Regions from separate parts of the Homo sapiens genome. Here region 1 is linked to region 2. Evidence: fine-mapped expression QTL. A gene starts in region 2. The other region holds a variant in brackets. All regions are shown on one strand. Distances are between the middles of the regions.

Region 1 (10,462 bases), 53 kb before region 2:
CTGCCTGAATGCCTGTCTCCAGGAGGGACGGGTGTAGACTTCTCTCAATCCACTTAGCACCAAACCTTTGCTCCTCCATATCTAAGCTGTGCTCCTATCCAGTGCCACCAGGGAAAGAGTTTCTGGCCCCTCACTAGAACCCACATGGAAGCTCCTGGCATCTCCACCTCTGGAGGTGGCTCAGAGACAGGTGTGGGAGTGGCAACTTCTCCATTATGACCCTGACAAGCGTAGCAGGGTTTCTAGCTGATCCAGGGCACGCGTTCCCAGAGTAAATCTGTGAGAAGGAAGGTCATGGCCAGCTCTGCTGACTTCAGGCCCTACTGGCTCCAGGCCCTGTCCCCTTTCCCTAAGCAGCTGCAGCGCCTGACCCCTCGTCACCTGTGTCCCCTCCCTGGGCTCTAGGACCAATTCTGAACTGAGATCGAAGCTCTAGGTCTAACCCCCAGCTCCCTTCTGCTAAAAGTCTGACCTAGACTATGTATTCCAACCAGATAAGAAGGATTTTACCCATTTTTCCGGTGTTCTATTGCTTGTATCCAAATGTTGGTGACCTTATCTTTTGCTCCTGGAGCCTGAGTGGCTGCCTTAGCAATGCAGAGCTGCGTCCTTTTCTTTGTTCTCTCCAATGCCCCTCCTCTCTCCAACCTCTCCTCTGTTCCCCTCAAGCCCACCCTGCAAGGGCTGGAATCCTCCTGTCTGTGACTTTCACCCAGTGTCTGGGGTCCTGCTACCTAACAGCTCCTTTTGAGGTTGACTGCCCACCTAGGTTTCTCAATAAGGTCTATCCCTAGATGTCCCTATGAGGGCAGTTCCCCTATCGATTGGGAAAACCTCCTAATTCAGGTGGGAGTTTCTGACACCAAGGGCTTACCTCCTGCCCCTCCTTCTGAGGCCTGGGCTTTTCTGTCTGCTACGCTGGAGTCTCAAGGCCTGGTGGGTCTCACCCCATTCAAGTTAACTGACAGCATAACAGTTCAACCTCAGGTTTGCCCATGCAGCCCTACTTAACCCAGTTAATGTAAAACAAAACAAACTAAAACTGAGCTATACTTGGAGCACTATTCAATCAAAATATTATTTATAACAATAATTCTTGGCAAAAACATATTAGAACCACCAAACAACAAATAAATCCTTTCAGATCCATCCTGTTCTCTCTATTCTGATTGCCACTAATTCATTCATCTCTTGGGTGGATGCTGCAGCAGACTCTTAGCTACATCTCTGTTTCTTCTCTGAGCCATCTCATTTCTAATGTGTCCCTCTGGCTGATCTTGCTAACATGCAAGCTGACCCGTGTCACTGTCTGGCTTAAAAATTCCTCAGTGGCTCCCTATGACCTTCAGGCTCTAACAATGCTGTAGTTGGGTTCCTACTCATCACCCCTCCCCTGCCCTGCTCACCTGACGCCCTCTAACCATGGTAGGCCACTTGCCCTTCGATGAACGAGTAATATGCTGAAGGCATTCTGTCTTTGCACCAACTCTGCTCCCTTGTTTGGCATGGGGATCAGGCCCATCCATCCTGGAGGCTCAGTTTCCATGCCAGTCCTGTTCTCCAGGAGCTCTCACCCTGCTGCTCCCTGGGCAAATCTGGGTTAGGTTGCCCGCCCTTGCTCCGGACCCCCACAGCATTCCAGCTTCCTCCAGCAAAGCCCCTAGGCTGTATTTTTCTTCTCTCTTTACATGCCTTTCTCTGTGTCTTTATAGCCCCAGAGCCCAGACCAATGCTTGACAGATGGCTGTCCCCACAGGTTCCTCACTGAAGCTCCCTCCCTCTCCAGCAGAAAGCCCCCTCCTCAGGTGGGCTCTCAGGTACCACCTGCCATGTGATGCCATACATCTCAGACCCTGAAACTCAGCAAAAGACCTGCTCAGAACCTGAGAATGGACAGTTTTGGACTTTCTTAAAGCTAAATCTGATATGTCTAATCTGACATGTCTGATTTAGATACGTCTAAAGAAAGTAGACATATCTAATAATCTACTTTCTTTAGACGTATCTAAATCAGATTATTTTCATAGAAAGTCTTAATTCATCAGCCAAAATATAATAATGTAATTTGAACCAGGAAATTACCCATAGAAAAGTGACTAAAATCTAATGTGCTGACACAAACAAAATTAATCACTTCCATCTGTATATATCCGTTCTCAGTTGACCCAGCAAATAAAGCGTTTACACTTGCCTGGGATATCCACTAGAACTTACCCTAAGTAATATACAATGTATAGAAAGTGCATTTTAGAATAATGAGATATATGAGAGACAGAAGATAAGCTTGGACACAAACTGGTATCAGAGGCCAGACTGTTCTGGAATTACCCCTCTGCTGAGGATTACTACCTTTCACAGGGTAGAGGGTGTGGCAGCACTGTTCCTCTGCCTAGAGGTTTAAGAGTCTGCTTTGTCATTAGAACTAATTAATTTCTGTTAATAATGTGGAAAAGTCTATGTTCCAATCACCGGCATGTGGAATATGGGATGGGGCAAACTTGCTTCTTTGGAATGAATATCATTCTATCACCTTTATGAAACTAATCCTTTGTGGGTACTTCATTCTATATTTCTAATTTGTATTCCAAATGTAGATCTATAGCTACTTCTTTCCTACTCTGAGACACTAGATGAGGCATGAGCAAATGGGGAAAATGTAAATGAGGCCTCATTTGATGATTCATGTCTTAGGAACTCTGTCCTCATTCAAAGCGTTTTCTCTTCCAAACTGTATTCTCCCAATATCCTAATAAGTCCTTTAAGTGGCATCACAAAGCATCCTTTTCTGAGCAGCAAGACACAAAAAATAATAGCTATCCCATTAAACTGTTGGGTAAGAACTCTGGCTGCAAGAATCATTCTTGTTCTGTAACAAAACCCTTTCTCCTTCTCTAAGGATAAATTTGACCTTGGGTTAACTTTCTATCTCAGTTCCCCTAGAAAACAATGAAGGTAGAATGTTAGCTGAATTACTAGGCCACAAAGCATATGGTTAAAATGATCCCTGATTTGGTAAATTGCATAGATATCTAGTAGAAAGTCATTGCTCTAGGCTTTTCTGAGTGCGATGATTCTTGTAACTTAATATGACCCTTGCTTGGACCTTAGAAGGCATACTATGGAGCAGTTCTAAAAGATACTGGATTCTGTGGGGCATCTAAGCCAAGAAAGACTCATATCCACCAATGTGGATCTTGTCCTTTTGCACCTGAGCTTTCACTTGAGGAGCCAGAGACTAGTCTCTGGAACTCTTGCAAATACTCCACTGAAGAGAAATGCTTGACACTGACTGTCCAGCAAGCCGTGTTTCCTGCCCTGTATCCTTCTAAGTGAATCTGAGCTAAGTGTGGCCTATGGTAGTGAACTTGTAAGACTGCATGCTTAGGTGAAAACCCCTAGTGGATGTGGCATAACTACCACCCCCTGTATAACGTATGGCTATTGTGTTTTCTGCAATGCGTTTTCTTAAAGACGTGGGATAGAATGTCAAGGAAACAGTAAATTGATTCTCCCTTTAAAATAGGTAAAATTGATAAAATACTAAGAGAAAACACCCTATATTTAGGCAACTACACTAGGACTGCAACCATGCAAAAAGGATGAGTAAACTTGCTTAAGGTTTGGGAGGAAATATAGAAATATTCATATTGCTGTTTTGTTAAATGAGATATGGGATTCAGGGTGATGTTCTTTTTAGAAAGTATTTATTATGGCATTATAATATGGTCTGTGTAATATATTAACATTTTAAAAAATAAGTGGAAGGCCCTTTGACTGCATCATACCCAGCTTAATCCAGTGCTCCTTCTCCCTAAGCTGTCCTACCATCTTAAATATCCTCTTCATTCAGCCATCAAAAATAATGAAGAGACCCGGTACAGTGGCTCACGCTTGTAATCCCAGCACTGTGGGAGACTGAGGCAGGTGGGTCACTTGAGGTCAGGAGTTCGAGACCAGCCTGGCCAACGTGACATGGCAAAACCCTGTCTCTACTAAAAATACAAAATTAGCCGGGTATGGTGGTACAGGCCTGTAATCCCAGCTACTCGGAAGGCTGAGGCAGGAGAATTGCTTGAACCTGGGAGGCAGAGGTTGCAGTGAGCCAAGATCGTGCTGCTGCTCTCCAGTATGAGTGACCAAGCGAGACTCCATCTCAGAAAAGTGGTAGAGATTAAAATGCAAAACAAAAAAGTTGTATTGGGAGGTTGGTAGTGGAGTGAGAGGGATATCTTAGTGCTGGCTATGATGCTTTTCTAGCACTAAGATTTCTCCTTGCAGGATAAGTCTTGCTGAGATAATGTCATTAGGTAAAAGGCAGAGGCTGTGTGCAGCCTGTAGTACTTAATATGGAGACCAGTATATTTGGTTTTAAAAATGGTACCTCCAAATATAATACTTAAAGAAAAGGGAAGCTGATACCCCATTTCTATGACATATGCCTAGAATTTTGGTGCTTTTGTTTCCCGCAAGAATGAAATGTTCTATTATTTTTTCATTTTCAGAATATATTCCTCTCATTAGAACCCCATATTATATGCATAACCCAAAAAGTGGAAACCATGTTCTTCCACCAGTGGCATTAGACCAAGAAAGCCTGCCTTTGAACCTTTAAAAGCCTGTCTCCAATCCTTAAAACCTTAATGGCTAGTGAACACAGCAATTCCCAATTAAGAGTCCTCAAATCTGATCTCAAAAATAACTGTCATGTTTTAGTAGAAGAGTGTATCTGAGACTTGGCCCTAGAAACATGTTTAAATGTCAACAATAACAGCAGATACCTGGAAACTTGTTCACTTGACCGGAGAATATGTCATTGTCGTGAAATGAAACTCCATGCCAGTAGATGTCACAAGGCAAGCGCCGGCCAAATGGGAACTAGAAGAGAAAAAATGTGACTCGCAATAAGAATAAGAAGAGCAGTGACCACACTGAGTATCCATTATGTACAAATTCCTGGCACCCTGGTGTACTTACCATGGTTTAATCCTTATAATACGCATATGAGGTAAGTGATATTCTTTGCCATTTTACAGATGAGGAAACAGATTCAAACAGGTTTAATAACTTGTTCCAAGTGGTAGAGCTCTGATTACATGTGGCAGATACTACACTCCTGGCTTTGCAGGCACCATTTCACTTTAATCCTTATAACTACCCTATAAAGGATTACTCCCATTTTGCTGATTCAAAACTTGGGGCTGACAGAGGTAATTTAACATGCCCAAGGGTCACACAGAGCTGGTAAGGGGAGGAACCAGGATTAGAGTCCAGGTCTATCCAAATTCCAAGCCCATACATCCCTTCCTCTGAAAATTACAACCCTCAACCGAGCCCAAAAGAATAAGCTTTCAGAGTCCCTCTTCCCTTATCTCTCTCTCTCTCTCTCTCTCTCTCACACACACACACACACATACACACACACATATGCTCCATGAGGGTAAGATGAATCCCAGGGCCTAAAACAGTTCCCCAAACTCGTAAAGACTTCCTGAATTAATAAATGAACAAATCAGGAGTGGTCATCTGACTCAAGATGAGATAACCAGATTCTCTCTTCCAGGAATCTGGAAATCAGAGATGCCAGGCAGCCTCTGCTGGCCCTTGAACTGGCAGGGATAAAAAGCCAGGGCAGGGCAGCTGTGCTTGGCTATGTGCACAGGAGCAGAGACAGCCAGTCTGCTGAGAGACAAGAAAGGAGCAG[G/A]TGTGGGAGGGAAAGCAGAGATGAGACAACATAGCCCTAGAAACTCAGACTGAGTGGCCTCAGACCCGCGTGAGCCTGTAAGATAGCCTTGTATCCTGAGAATACCTTTTTGGTCTTCTAAAATCTTGTTTGGCACAAGCTATAGAGTTTCAATTATTTGAAGCCAGAAAATTTCTCACCGAGACAAAAGGGCCTGTTCTTTCCACTACATCCTGTTGCTTCTCAAAGTTATCAACAAGCTCTGCATTTAATGAACATATTTTTTAAATCTGTAACTCAGATGACCTTGTTAAAGGAGAAAAGAGAGGCCATGTTAGTTCATATTCAGAATTTGCTTGTTAAAAGTGCACACAAATAGATATGCCAACATATTAAATAAAAATCTTTTGATTTTCCCATTCTAGGACTATAGGTAATCAGAATTTTTATCTACTTCAAGTTGAGGGGCCAAGGTCCAATGGAAGAACATAGCCTTACTAATGAAATGGTGGTGACTCAATGCTTTCCATACATTCCACATTAAAATGAAGCCAGCCTCAAGTCATTTAAATCAGTCACATTATTTCAAAGCTGTGCACAATGAGGCATATGTTGTACACTCTACTCACATTAACAACTTCCATCTATAATTTACAGCATTTTGCTCATTTTCTTTTTATGCAATGGGCTGTAAGTTATTAATTCAGTACTCATAAATACAATGAGATACAACATATGTTATTTTCTTCTAGCTGTTAAGTGCTAATATAGAGAAGGAGAAAATAACCAGAATTAAGCAGGCTATCCGAGCAAAGGGTAAAGTGGCTTTGCTTTGTTGCCCACAATGAGGAACCAACACCTTGTCAGTGGGCAACCCAATGACTCTTATCTCCTTTTTCATCACTCTTCAATGCTTACCACCCTCATGAATACCAAATTGCCCCCCCTTTTAGAGGCACCTTTAGCTCATTCAGTTTTGAGAAACTACCATTTTTAAAAACATGTCCATTCACTCAGTAATTATTATATGCCAGACTAGGTGCTAGGAATATGGGGGATATAATTTTAATTAAGTCCCAGGATTTCATAATCCTACCTCTTTTTAAGCTCCTTTAAAAACTGTCCGCTTACACAGCTAACATCATACTCAATGGTAAAATACTAAAAGCTTTAAAGCTTTTCCACCATGATCAGGAATAAGACAAAGATGCCCACTTTTATTTTACATCAACATAGTATTATAAATTCTAGCCAGAATAGGCAAGAGAAAGATATAGAAGGTGTCCACATTAGAAAATAAGAAGCAAAATTATCTGTTTGTTGATGACATGATCCCATATGTAGAAAACTCTAATGATTCCACAGAAAAATATTCAAAGTAATAAACAAATTCAGCAAAGTTGCAGGATACAAAATCAACACATAAAAATCAACTGTGTTTCATACATGATGAGGAGCAATCCAAAAAGGACCTTTTTTTAAAAGAATTCCATTTATAATAGCATCAAAAAGAATAAAATACTTAGGAATTAACCAAAAAGGTGAAAGACTTGTACACTGAAAACTATAAAATATTTGTAAAAGAAATTAAAGAAGATATTAATACAAATAAACAGAAAGATATCCTATGCTCATAGACCGGAAGAGTTAATATTGTTAGGATGTCAATACTACCTAAAATGGTCTACAGATGCAATGCAGTCTCTATCAAAATCCCAATAACTTTTTTTCAAAATAAAAAAATCCATCCTAAAATTCATATGGAATTACAAGGGACCCCAAATAGCAAAAACAATCTTGAAAAAAAAAAAAAGAACCAAGTGGAGTTCTCATACTTCCTTTTTTTTTTTTTTTGAAACAGAGTCTTCTTCCATCACCCAGGCTGGAGTGCAGTGGTACAATCTCAGCTCACTGCAACCTCTGCCTCCTGGATCAAGTGATTCTTTCTCTTCTGCCTCAGCCCCCCGAGTGGCTGGGATTACTGGCACATGCCAGCGCACCCAGCTAATTCTTGTATTTTTAGTAGAGGCTGGGTTTTGCCATGTTGGCCAGTCTGGTCTCAGGCCATCCACCTGCCTCGGCCTCCCCAAGTGCTGGGATTAAAGGCGTGAGTCACTGCGCCCAGGCTGGAGGTCTCACATTTCCTGATGCCAAAAACAAAGCTACAGTAATCAAATAGTGTATACAATCACAATGAGATACCACCAGCACCTATTACAATGGCCAAAGTCCAAAACACTGACATACCAAATGCTGGCAAGGACGTCGAGCAACAGGAACCCTCATTCCTTTCTGGTGGAAATGCAAAATGGTAAAGCCACTTTACAAGGCAGTTTGGCAGTTTCTTACAAAACTAAACATACTCTTATTATATAATCCAGCAATTAGTTCTCCTCGGTATTTATCCAAATGGGTTGAAAAACTTATATCCACACAAAAATCTGCACATGAATGTTTATAGCAGCTGTATTCATAACTGCCAAAACTTGGAAGCAGCTGAGATGTCCTTCAGTAGGTGAGTCCTTCTGTAGGTGAGTAGATAAATAAACTACAGTATATCCAAACAATGAAATATTATTCAGTGCTAAAAAGAAATGAGCTGTCAAGCCACAAAAGACATGGAGGAATCTTAAATGCATATTACTAAATGGAATAAGTCAATCTGAAAAAGCTACATACTGTATGATTCCAACTAAACTACATTCTGGAAAAGGCAAAACTACAGAGACAGTAAAAAGATCAGTATTTGCCAGGGGCCCGAGGGGAGGAAGAGATGAATAGGTGAAGTACAGAGGATTTTAGAGCAGTGAAAATACTCTGTGTGATACTATAATGGTAGATACATGTCATTATACATTTTTCAAAACCCATAGAATAGCACCAAGAGTGAAGAGTAATGTAAACTATGGACTTTGGGTGATGATGACATGTCAGTGTAGTTTCATCAGTTGTAAAAAACACACCACTCTGATTCAGGATTTTGATGGTGGGGGAGGCTATCAATGCAGGTGGGGGAAAATCTCTGCACCATATGCTCAATTTTGCTGTGAACCAAAAATGCTTTAAAAATGAAAATAAAAACAAATGAAAAAAATCAGTGTGGTACTGGCATAAAGACAGATATAGAGGACAGTGGGATAGGATAGCTCAGAAATAAAGCCTCTCAGGTGTGATCAAATGATTCTCAACAAGGATGACAAGACTATTCAATAGGGAAAGGGCAGTCTTTTCAACAAGTGGTGCTGGGAAAACTGAATATCCACGTGCAAAAAGAATGAAGTTGGACCTTTACCTTATACCATATACAAAAATTAACCCAAAATAGATCAAAGGCCTAATCATATGAGCCAAATCAAAGGCCTAATCATATGAGAAAAGCTTCATAACACTAGAAATACAGAAAATATAGGAGAAAAGCTTCATAACACTAGAAATATAGAAAACATAGGAGAAAAGCTTCATAACACTGCATTTGGCAATGATTTCTTGGATATGACAACGTAAGCACAGCCAACAAAAAACAAAATAGGTAAATCAAAGATAAAAATTAAAAACTTTTTTTCATCAAAAGACACTATGAACAGAGTGAAAAGGTAACCCACAGAATGGCAGAAAATATGTGCAAAATCATATATTTGATAATAGATCAATAGTCAGAATATATATATATTTTTTTCTTTTCTTTTTTTATTTTATTATTATACTTTAAGTTTTAGGGTACATGTGCACAACGTGCAGGTTTGTTACATATGTATACATGTGCCATGTTGGTGTGCTGCACCCATTAACTCGTCATTTAGTATTAGGTATATCTCCTAATGCTATCCCTTCCCCCTCCCCTCATCCCACAACAGTCCCCGGTGTGTGATGTTCCCCTTCCTGTGTCCATGTGTTCTCATTGTTCAATTCCCACCTACGAGTGAGAACGTGCAGTGTTTGGTTTTTTGTCCTTGCGATAGTTTGCTGAGAATGATGGTTTCCAGCTTCATCCATGTCCCTATAAAGGACATGAACTCATCCTTTTTTATGGCTGCATAGTATTCCATGGTGTATATGTGCCACATTTTCTTAATCCAGTCTATCATTGTTGGACATTTGGGTTGGTTCCAAGTCTTTGCTATTGTGAATAGTGCCGCAATAAACATACGTGTGCATGTGTCTTTATAGCAGCATGATTTATAATCCTTTGGGTATATACCCAGTAATGGGATGGCTGGGTCAAATGGTATTTCTAGTTCTAGATCCCTGAGGAATTGCCACACCGACTTCCACAATGGTTGAACTAGTTTACAGTCCCACCAACAGTATAAAAGTGTTCCTATTTCTCCACATCCTCTCTAGCACCGGTTGTTTCCTGACTTTTTAATGATCGCCATTCTAACTGGTGTGAGATGGTATCGCATTGTGGTTTTGATTTGCATTTCTCTGATGGCCAGTGATGATGAGCAGAATATATTTTTAAACTCCTACAACTCAACAATGAAAAAACACTTACAAAATGGACAAAAGTCCTGAATAGACATTTCTCCTAAGATATACTAATGGCCAATGAGCATATGAAAAGATATTTAACATCATTAATCATTTAAAAAATTGCAAATCAAAATCATAAGAAACTGCTTCATACCCATTAGGATAACTATTATCAAAAACAGGCTGGGCGAGGTGGCACACACCTGTAATCACAGCACTTTGGGAGGCTGACGCGGGAGGAGTTCAAGACCAGCCTGAGCAACATAGCAGGGCCCCCATCTAACAAACAACAACAACAAAATACCTGAA
Region 2 (10,462 bases):
ACAAAGACTTTATACTATAATAGATCTCAGGACAGGGGCTTATTCAAACTATCATCAACAAAGGTCCCGCTATGAAATCTCTCAGGGCCCTCATTCACATTAGCTGGTGGCCATGGCACCACTGTGCACATAAACACAACCTACATCTCCAAAGAGGGCAGCTCACAACAAAAGTGGCGTCTACTCTCTATGGTGTCTTTCCTCTAAGGTGTTTTTTCATGAGGGTAGCAAAATGACAGAAGCATCCATGGGAGATGGGGAGTCTTCACAGGATGGGAAGAAGACCATACAAATCCATAAACATTGAGCATCTGCGGTGAACCAGAAACCATGCCTTTCTTTCATGTTGCAACATCAGTGGTGACTCTGTAAACATGATTTTGCTATTTGAGAGTAACTCCAGTCTTGTCTACAAGTTTACAGAGCTAACATCTGTGATCCTTCCCTTTCAGAAACAAATTTAACATTGTGGACGCAGTTAAATTAGACCTGGCCAGAACGGGTATGACTGCAAACTGAATCATCTGAGGGCTGGCATGGTTCACTTGGGACTGAAGGAGAGTGGGCAAGGGAGGCCGGGTCTATATATGGCAAGCAATCTGTGATTAAATTCAGTCAGAAGCGCAAGCTTCTTGGCATGGCCTTCACCATGCTCTGTGATCTGGCTTCTTCATCGCTCTCCACTCCCCCATATGCTCCCTCAGCTGCCATCATCCCATCCTGCATGTAAAACCTGGTCCATACTGCCTGCCTTGTTGTTCCTACTCTGTATGGAACATCCTTGAATCACTCACCTCCCAGACCAAACTGTAACTGTTTGTTTGCATGTATTCCTCCTCCTACACCAGGAGCTCCTGGAGGGCAAGGAGTGTATCCTGTTCACATCTACATCTGCGACCTCCAGCCCAGTGTTTACCAATAGAGAGCACAGAATTGAAGCCTGGTTTCAAATGGAATGCATATTTCAAATGCTAGCTCTGTCCCTTACTAGCTATGTGGCCTCAGGTAAGTTAACCTCTGTGTATTTCCATGTTCTCATATGTAGAACGGACACAATAAGGCATTTACTTTACTGAGCTGTTGGGAGAATCAAACAATTGTATATATGTAGAGCACTTAAAACAGCACCTGGAACAGAGTAAGAGCTATATAAAGATTTATTATCATGTTGTTGTTGTTGTTAAATATATGTGGAATAAGGAAAAGTGAAAAAGGAGCCAGGGGTGGTGGCTCACGCCTGTAATCCCAGCATTTTGAGAGGCCGAGGCAGGCAGATCACTTGAGGTCAGGAGTTCAAGACCAGTCTGGCCAACATGGTGAAACCCCATCTCTATTAAAAATACAAAAATTAGCCAGGGATGGTGACACATGCCTGTAATCTCAGCTACTCAGGAGGCTGAGGCAGGAGAACTGCTTGAACCTCTGAGGCAGAGGTTGTAGTGAGAGTGCAGTGAGCCAAGATAGCACCACTGCACTCCAGCCTGGATGACAGAACGACACCCTGTCTCAAAAAAAAAAAAAAAAAAAGTGAAAAAGGAAGCGAGATTGTGTGCCCTGCAGCTGAGCAAACTTCTGAATTCACATGCTGGCTCAGTCCTACCCTGTTAAAGTGGACGGTGATATATAGCTCCTCACTATGCACCCATAAAAGGAGACACAGCTCTCACTCTGGTTGGTGTTCATGACCTTATTTCTTACCTGGGCTACTCATCCACTCCCACCAAAGCCAGCCACCTGAGTACTCCCCAAACCCACAGCAACACAGCATGGGCTGCAAGAGATACTGTTGCTCACACCCTTGCACCACAGCCCCCAGTAGAAGTTCTTGCTCCTAAAACAGCGCTGGGAGTTCAAGATGATCTCATCCAATATCACCTCATAACAGATGGGGAAAGGCAGGCATAAGAAAGGTCATGTGTTTGCACTTTGTTAGTACCAGGGATATATATATATGTTAGTTTTCATGCAGTCAACTTTGTAGGAGGTACTAAGAATACTATAATCATAGTTTAAAGCAGGAAGGAACTTTAAAGTTTAGCTACTCTGGCACTTTTCAACCTCCACACTAGGGTGTCAAGATGTGATGTAAGCTCTCTTGCAAATATTCCATAATTCATTTGATGAATATTTATTGAGCACCTAGAATATGCTGTGCATTAGGGACATAAGTCAGATACCACCCCTGCCCTCAGGACTTCATGCAGTAATGAGGAAGGGTGACAGTAATAATCACAAGCCTAATAGTAGAGTCTTATTGTTGCAAGTGAATTGTTTTTTTAATTTTCAATATTTTTTTTAGAGACAGGGTCTTGCTCTGTCACCCAGGCTGGTGTGCAGTGGCACAATCATAGCTCACTGCATCCTTGAACTCCTGGACTCAAGTGATCCTCCCACCTCAGCCTCCCAAGTAGGTGGAATTACAGGCATGAGCCACCACATTCAGTGAATTATGTTTTAAAATATACTAGAATAAACATCTCCACCTATATGCCAATGTGTTCTCTGAGTGGGAAAAAAAGGGCAGGGTTGGAGGTGGAAGAAGCAGTTACAGGTAGTGCCTTGGAAAAAGCCTACCCACTGGGGGTGACCAGTGCAACAGTCTCATGTAGATCAACATTACCATTATGCGGCTACCGAAGTAGAGAGTAGATCAACATTACCATTATGCGGCTACCGAAGTAGAAAGACTGGAAACTGCTGAATTAGCTCTGTCCACCCCTACTTTACAGATAAGCAAACTGAGGCCTCAAGGGTTTAACTGACTTGCCCTGATAAATGGAAGAACATCAAAATTCTGTTAATGGCTCACATAGCCTTCCTCCCCAAAACAGGTCCAAATCCCATCGCATGGCACATGATCTGATCCCTGCTCATTTCTGAAGCCCCATCTCTTACCACTCCACCTCCCACGCTATGATCCGGCCATACTCAAAGTCCTGAAAGGGCCTCTGCTTTGCCCACACCACTCCTGCAACCAGGGATCCAAAGTCCATGACCCTAAATAACTCCAGTTCATTTTCAGCACTCACAACTCAGCTCGGGTTTATTTCCTCCAGGAAGTCCTTCCTGGGTGCCCCTCCTCTACCTCCCGCAGCATTTCTCCTTTCACACAGAAACACTCATCACATAATGTATTCATTCATTCAACGAATATTTATTGAGCAACTTCTGTGTGCCAAGTACCTGCGGGTACAGCAATAAACAAAACAAAGCCCCTGCCCTCATGGAGCTTACATTCTAGTGAGGGAAACGACAATAAACAAGCAATACATAATATAATGCCTGGCGAAGTTTAGTACTATGGAAAAAAAATAAATACCAAGGGCTGGAGATTGATGGGGAAGGTATCATCTAAAGAAGTGACAAGAGTAAGCCATGCAAATAAATGAAAAGGGAGAATTTCAGGATGCAGCAGCAATGTAATGACCTGTAATGACCGCAATTATTCCTTTACTTGTGTTTTATTCCCTATTGAACCATGAAGTCCTTGGGGGCAAGGGTCACATCTTAAGTATGTTTGGTTCCCAGGGCCCAGCAAAGAACTTGGCACCTCCAAAGTGGACATTTACGGAATGAGTGAACGAACCTGGGCTGGGATGTATTAGTCCATCTGGCCCCATCTCTCCGAGCAAACGAGATCTGGCCTGCTTTATGTCTCTCTCTCCCACAGGGATAAGCTAAGTGGAGGCCCCACTTGGGCCAATCTGCCTAGCCTGACTCCATAGCCTGGTTTTATTTGCTGGATTCTCCCTTCATTAAGACCACGGCACTGACAAGTTGTCCAGTTGTACCTTTTCTAGCCCTCATATCTCTGGCCTGGACCTGGGGCCCTGCCTAGAAACCCAGATACTTTAGAACTGAGAGCCTGCCTTTGTTTTCCCCAAGTTTCCCCAGCATGAAAGTTCCCCTCTGAATCCCAAGCCCCAAGGCTGGGGGCCCAGACACTTGGAGTCAAACTTCCCCAACGGCTACACCCTATCCACCTGGAAGTCGGTTCTGCCTGATCCTTGACTTCCCTCCAAACCAAATGCACTTTTTCCTATTGGGACATCAACCCTCTGACCACATCAGTCCTTTCTGTGGCCATCTCTCTGTATGTTCCAACTTAATGAAACCATTACCGAGCATCTACCATAGCCAAGGCACAGGGCTAAGAACCTGAGTCCTCTGTTACCCGCAGCAGATCCCTGTTACCACTGGCTGTGTCCACACTCAGCTATCCTTAATCAAACTCCTGACACTCCTGAAAGCACATTAAATACCTTATATGCTGCAAATAAAGTCAAATGGCTTTATCCACGTAGCCAATTGCAACAGACACCTCTAGAGTCACTGGTGCTACATTCCATCCCCTGCCAGTCTAAAATGGGCTCAGGGATGATAACTCATGTATTCATTCACCCTTTCATTCACTGCTTACTGACACATGCCGTAAGCCAAGCCTGGAATATAAAATACAGTGCCTGATTTTATACCACTGATCATGAGGACAGTGGTGGTGCTGGTGGTGGTGATGGTGATGATGGTGGAAGAAGAGAGAAAGGAGAAGGTGGTAACGTAAGTTACCATTTATTGCAGACTTGTGCTATAAAACACTAAGTAGTGAGTCTTCTAATGCTAACAAGATGATGAGATAAGTATAATTGGCCTCACTTTACAGAGAAGGTAATAGGCTGAAGAGGTGAAGCAACTTACTCAAGGTCACACAGCTAAGTAGCAAAGTGTAGTGAGACCCTAGGCCTGTCTGCCTCCAAAATAAAAAGTGTTCCTCTGCCCAAGAGTCACACAGCAAGTGCTAAACAAATATAACTTCAATGAAGAAGTGAGAGAGCGGGTCCGGGGCCCCAGGGGCTTACAAGCTGGTGGAGGAGACAGACGTACACATATCTACAAGCAGAGGCAAATGCTGATGGCTGAGACATAAAAAGAGCTGCAGGGAGGCAGAGGAGTGAGTGGCTAACTTGACCTGGAGGGGTCTGGGGGGCCCTCTTGGAGGAAGTGATTTTGGGGGGTAGGCCTTGAAGGATGAGCACTTTGCGGCTGACAAGCAGGCCCGAGCGTGGTGCACCGCAGGAGCTCAGCCCTCGCCCGCCGACCTGACCTGGGCCGTGCCGAGACCTCTGAGGTCGTCCTGTCCACCCCACTGTGCCCACGCGGCCGGGTCGGGCCGGGCCTCACCTCCTTCCACTTGAGCTGGCGGATGCTGATCTTCAGGGCATCCAGGGAGGTCCTGGCCTTGGAGCTGTCCACGGTGACCGGCCGCTGGGAGCCGTTCTCGCCGGAACCGTGGCCCGAGCTCCGCTTGCAGCTTCGGCCCTTGTCCCGGGGCTTCCCGTGCGGGCAGAGGCCCTGCACCGGCTTCGGCTTGGACGGGGGCAGCGTGGGCGGCGGCCGCTGAAGGACCTGGGTGTTCCCCTCCTCAGCCGCACTGGGCTGCGCCGGGGCCGGGGCCAGGACCTTGGGCTGCTCCTCCCCTGCCTTGCACTCCGGTTCCCCGGCCGCGCCCGCGTCCACGCGGACCTGTTCCGCCACCGTCTCCGCTGTGGCCTCGGCCTCAGCTTTGGCCGCCGCTTTGGCCGCAGCCACCGCCTCCGCCTCCCACCGGGCCGCCAGCTCGCTCTCGGAGCTGCCCCGCCGCATGGTGCTCAGGGCCGGGGCCAGTGCCAGTGCCACCGCCGCCGCCGCCGCCGCTCCGCCGCCCCAGTCCGCCACCAAACTGCCGCCGCTGCAGCCGCTGCCACGCGTTCCCCGCCCGAGCCCGTTGCCATGATCGCTCAGGCTCGGGTTGACAGCGGCAGTCACCGCATCGAGACGGGGTCCGGGAAGGGACAATCGCCGGCCGAGCCCCAGCGACCTCATAGGCGAGGCTGCCCACGTGACCCTGCCTGTCACAGAGGCAGCGGCGGCCATGTTGGAAGAGGGCAAAGAGCCGCCAGGACCCGCCCACCCCGCGGATGCGCTGGATCTCGAGGGCGCAGAACTCGGAGTGGCGAGGAGAAGCGGGAGGGCAGATTGAGCGCGCGTGGGGCTCGTGAGCCTGGGGACTGGGAGTAAAAACAACTACCTCAAGCAGGAGGCTCAGTCCCCGCCAACACTCGCTGGGATAACTCTCGATAGGACGGAGGAGGAGCCCCCCAGTGGGACCCTCCTCAGTGCAATGGATGGGACCCTCCTCAGTGCAATGGATGGGACCCTCCTCAGTGCGATGGATGTGAGCAGCCCAGGCCCTAGGGGAGCAGAGAGTGTTCCGCTGAAGAAACCCTCTGCTGGTCCTTTGAGCGCCCCCAGATAAGAGGGGAGGCACTTTTCCCTGTTCTCAGGGAGCTCCCGATGGGATGGGGAAGTCATGGGCATGGGTAAGCCCCCTATAGATTCCCACTCGAGTTGAGGATATTAACGATTTTTTCTTTTTCTTTTCTTTTTTTCTTTTTTTTTTTTTTTTTTAGACAGGGTCTCTCTCTGTCGCCCAGGCTGGAGTGCAGTGGCGCGATCCCGGCTCACTGCAGCAGCCTCAACTTCCAGAGCTCAAGGGATCCTCCCACCCCAACCTCCCGAGTAGCTGAGACTACACGAATGTACCACCACTCCCGGCTAAGTTTTGTGTTTCTCGTAGAAACGTGGTTTCGCCATGTTGCCGAGGCTGTTCTCAAACTCCTGACCTCAGGTAATCTGCCAGCCTCGGCCTCCCAAAGTACTAGGATTACAAGCAGAACCACCGCGTCTCTTGTTTTCTTTTTTGTTTTTGTTTTTGTTTTGTTGTTGTTGTTGATGTTGTTACAGAGTTTCGCTCTTGTCGCCCAGGCTGGGATGCAATGGTGTGATCTCGGCTCATTGCAGCCTCCGCCTCCCGGCTTCAAGCAATTCTCCTGCCTCAGCCTTGTGAGTAGCTGGGATTGCAGGAGCCGGCCACCATGCCCGGCTAATTTTTTGTATTTTTAGTATAGACGGGGTTTCACCATCTTGGCCAGGCTGGTCTCTAACTCCCGACCTCAGATGATCCACCCGCCTCAGCCTCCCAAAGTGCTGAGATTACAAGCGTGAGCCACCACGTCCAGCCTGACTGCTTTTACTTATATCACTTTTTTTGTTGTGGTAAAATATAACAAAATTTGCCATTTTAACCATTTTTAGTGTACAATTCAGTGGCATTCTGTATACTCACATTGTTGTGCAACCAGCACCACTATGGGTCTCCGGAACTCTTTTATCTTACCAAACTGAAACTTTGTGTCTATGAAACAATAAGTCGGGATTCCCTTCTCTCCTAGTCCCTGGGAACCACCATTTCTACTTTCTGACTATGAATTTGACTATTCCTGGTTCCTCATGTCAGTGGAATCATACAGTATTTGTCTGGCTTATTTCACGTAGCATAATGTCCTCAAGGTTTCTCCATGTTGTAGCATGAGTCCAAATTTCACTCATTTTTAAGACTGAAAAATATTTCGTCGTGTGCATACACCACCTCGTTTTTATCCATTCATCTGTCAATGGACTTAGGTTGTTTCCACCTTTTGGCTATTGTGAAGAATGTCGGTTAACATTGGTATACAAATACCTGTTTGAGCCCCTGCTTTCCATTTTTGGGAGTTGCCATCATTTTAAAGCCAAACCAAGGAGAAAGCTCTCCCCTCCCACCTGAGGGAGCCGCATTTGTTTTTTTAGGAAGTGGGGTTGAGAAGGTGTAACAGCACCCCAGACTGACCACAGCGGCCACGACTGCACACAGGGGAACTTTGCCTCGCTCGACACTACAGGGTGAAAGAAACACAGAAGTTGTCAAGGAACGTGGCCCCTCTTCCTCTCTCATCTCTCCAGGTGTCTTGTTTCTTTGCTTTAGTCCAGGGGTTTCACTTGCTGAATAAACTGCCTTGAAATGTCCAAGTCATAAACTTAAGAGATCCAAACCTCCTTTTTAGCAGCAGAGGGCGCTCGCATCTGTTCCCTTCATGACTTTGTTTCAGAGTTTCTGTAAGCATGGTCGTCTGGCCACTTGCATGGGAACAACCCGGGGTGTTTATTTAAAATGCAGGCTCCTGGACCCCACCCCCAGAGACTGTGATGCAGCACATCTGGGTGGACCTGGGAATCTGCATGTTAAATTAGCTCCTCCGCTGATTCTAAGGCAGCGGAGGCAAGAACCACTCATAGAGTCTGATGCAAGTCCTCTGGAAATTCTTGGAGCTGTCCGTGGTATCAGTAAGAAGGCCTCACTGTCCCCCCATTTCTCTCCACAAACCTACCCCCCAAATCCTGTCCCTCCTCCTGGTGTCCTTGATCTCAGCAAGTGGCACTACCTTCATTCAGTCATCCATGCTTGAAATTTGCCGAGATCGCGCCACTGCACTCCAGCCTGGGCGACAGAGTGAGACTCGGTCTCAAAAAAAAAAAAAAAAAAAAAAAAAAAACATATATATATATATATATATATATATATATATATATATATATATATATAAAAACTGGGCATGATGGCATATGCCTGTAATCCCAGCTACTCGGGAGGCTGAGGCACAAAACTCATGAACCCAGGAGGCAGAGGCTGCAGTGAACTGAGATCGCGCCACTGCACGCCTAGGGCAACAGAGCGAGACTCATTCGAGAGAGAAAAAGAGAGAGAGAGAGAGAGATCTCCTCTTTCCTCTCTTATCTATCTCTATCATCACCACCCCAATTCAGGCTTCTGCTGATAGCTCACCTCCAGCTCTGCCACACACCCACCCATTCTCCACACCAGACCTGCCACTCTCCTGCTTAGAAACCTCCCCTGGTTTGTCACCATCTACAGATAAAGTCCAAGAACATTGATTGTCCTAAGAGGCCCTTCCTGATTACAATTTCTGAAATCAACCCCTCTCCCTGCCTCCATGCCTTTGTAAACATTGTTCCTTCTGTCTGGACTTCCCTTCCTTCATGTCTGTTCTTAGACAAACTTTTCCCAGTGCCTCAGGCAGAAATAGTTACTCTCTGTGCTCTTCTATTCACACCCATAATTCTCATCCACAACTCTCAACCCTGGTCTGTCTGTCACACTATCTAGAAATCATCTCAGCCTCCACCATTAGTCTGGGCAAGAACAAATCTTGTCTGATTCATCTCTGTATCCCCATCTCTTGGGTCTTGGAACACAGTGGCCCTTGCTTTGTTCATGGTAGTATGAACAAAGTAGTATGGATGTATTAATGAATGAGTCATTTTCAGCCTCATATGTCAAATCTGTAAGGACAATCCCATATAGAAATATTCATTTTGGCTTCACATCCCGAGACCTCTTCTGCCTCAGGGCCTTTGCACATGCCCTCTGCCTTTCTTTAGATCTCTGGCTACTGCTCCTTCATTATTCAGTGTAAATGATACATCTGCACAGATACCTCTGATCTCTTCATCTAAGTCAGACTTATTCAGATGAAATAATTATGCAAGAGAGGAAAATAGGAGGTGTCATGAGGGAGTATATGATTAAGTGCCAATGAGGCAAAGAGTAAAAAATAAAATTCATCCAGTAGCTCAAGAAATAGAGAATTTACTGTGAATTAGAAAGCTAGACCAGGCTTCCTATAAGAGAGAGACTATAAGCTGAGTCTTCGAGGTGGAGTAGGAATCAGGTTGATAGAAAGCTAGGTGGGGTGGTCACTGAAGAGCTATGGATAGGGCTGCTGCAGTCATGCAAGAGGCCTTGCGGGCGTTGAAATCCAATGTGTGCAAAGCCTCACCCATCATGGCTTTGGCCATGGGATGGGGGTGCTTTTGCCCATTGGCTTAAAGACTCCCAGGGCTCATGGAGGCCCTGTACTGAGAGGGAAGATGAAGAAAAGGTGAAGCAAGATTTAAGAAGGGGATAATCATCTGCTTCTTCAAGAGGGCAGGGAGCAGACTGGACCAGTTGAAATACAAGCCTCTGAGCAAGGGAGAAAAGAAAGGAAACAAGGCCCACTTGAGCCCGACTGTCAGGTCTTTGAATACCATGGCACCCTTGACTTCTCAGGAAATTCTAAAATGTGTTAGTGGAAAATCCAAACCCACATGAGACTTCTTCAAGAAAAGCTTTAGCTGTGTCTGCTAAGAAGCAAAAGCAGGTTAGATTTCAGGACTAGGATTACTTCCAAAAAATACACAAATGTGAAAATAAAGTTCTCCGGGAGTTCTCTCCTTTTCCTTCCCAGCACTCACCATAGTTTACAGTTGGAGTGTTACTTGTTTGTTTACTTGTTATAGCCTGTCTTGCCAGCCAGAGTCTGGGTGCCAGAATATAAAGGGTGTGTTGTTCTTGCTGACCACAATATCCTAGTGCCTAGTTCAGTGCCTGGCACAGAGTAGGCATTCTGGAACTGTTGAATGAATGAATGAATGAATGAATGAATGAATGAATGAAAAATTAGACTGCCCAGATAGTCAACAATTAAAAAATGGTTAAGTGAATGATAGCAAACGCTGTCAATGACAGCTTCAGCCGCTTAGGAAA

The links.
Region 1: its variant is fine-mapped to the expression of TTLL11 in skeletal muscle (GTEx, PIP above 0.99).

The regions. Positions count from the first base shown.
Region 1 is chr9:122,034,494-122,044,955 of GRCh38, forward strand. It overlaps TTLL11 (tubulin tyrosine ligase like 11), which reads right to left. Exons shown (of 9, transcript NM_001139442.2): 2 at 4,779-4,875. Among named protein-coding and RNA genes, the nearest start is that of TTLL11, 54 kb to the right of the region's middle. RefSeq lists an enhancer at 4,434-5,633. The variant G/A (reference allele first, on the strand shown) is at 5,702.
Region 2 is chr9:122,087,509-122,097,970 of GRCh38, forward strand. It overlaps TTLL11 (tubulin tyrosine ligase like 11), which reads right to left and starts at 5,800. Exons shown (of 9, transcript NM_001139442.2): 1 at 5,179-5,800. The coding sequence starts at 5,640. It overlaps LOC124902262 (a long non-coding RNA gene), which reads left to right. Exons shown (of 3, transcript XR_007061755.1): 2 at 849-1,005; 3 at 3,529-3,771. It overlaps LOC124902263 (a long non-coding RNA gene), which reads left to right and starts at 6,624. Exons shown (of 2, transcript XR_007061757.1): 1 at 6,624-6,664; 2 at 7,666-7,892. RefSeq lists enhancers at 5,328-6,041, 5,791-5,980 and a silencer at 5,391-5,440.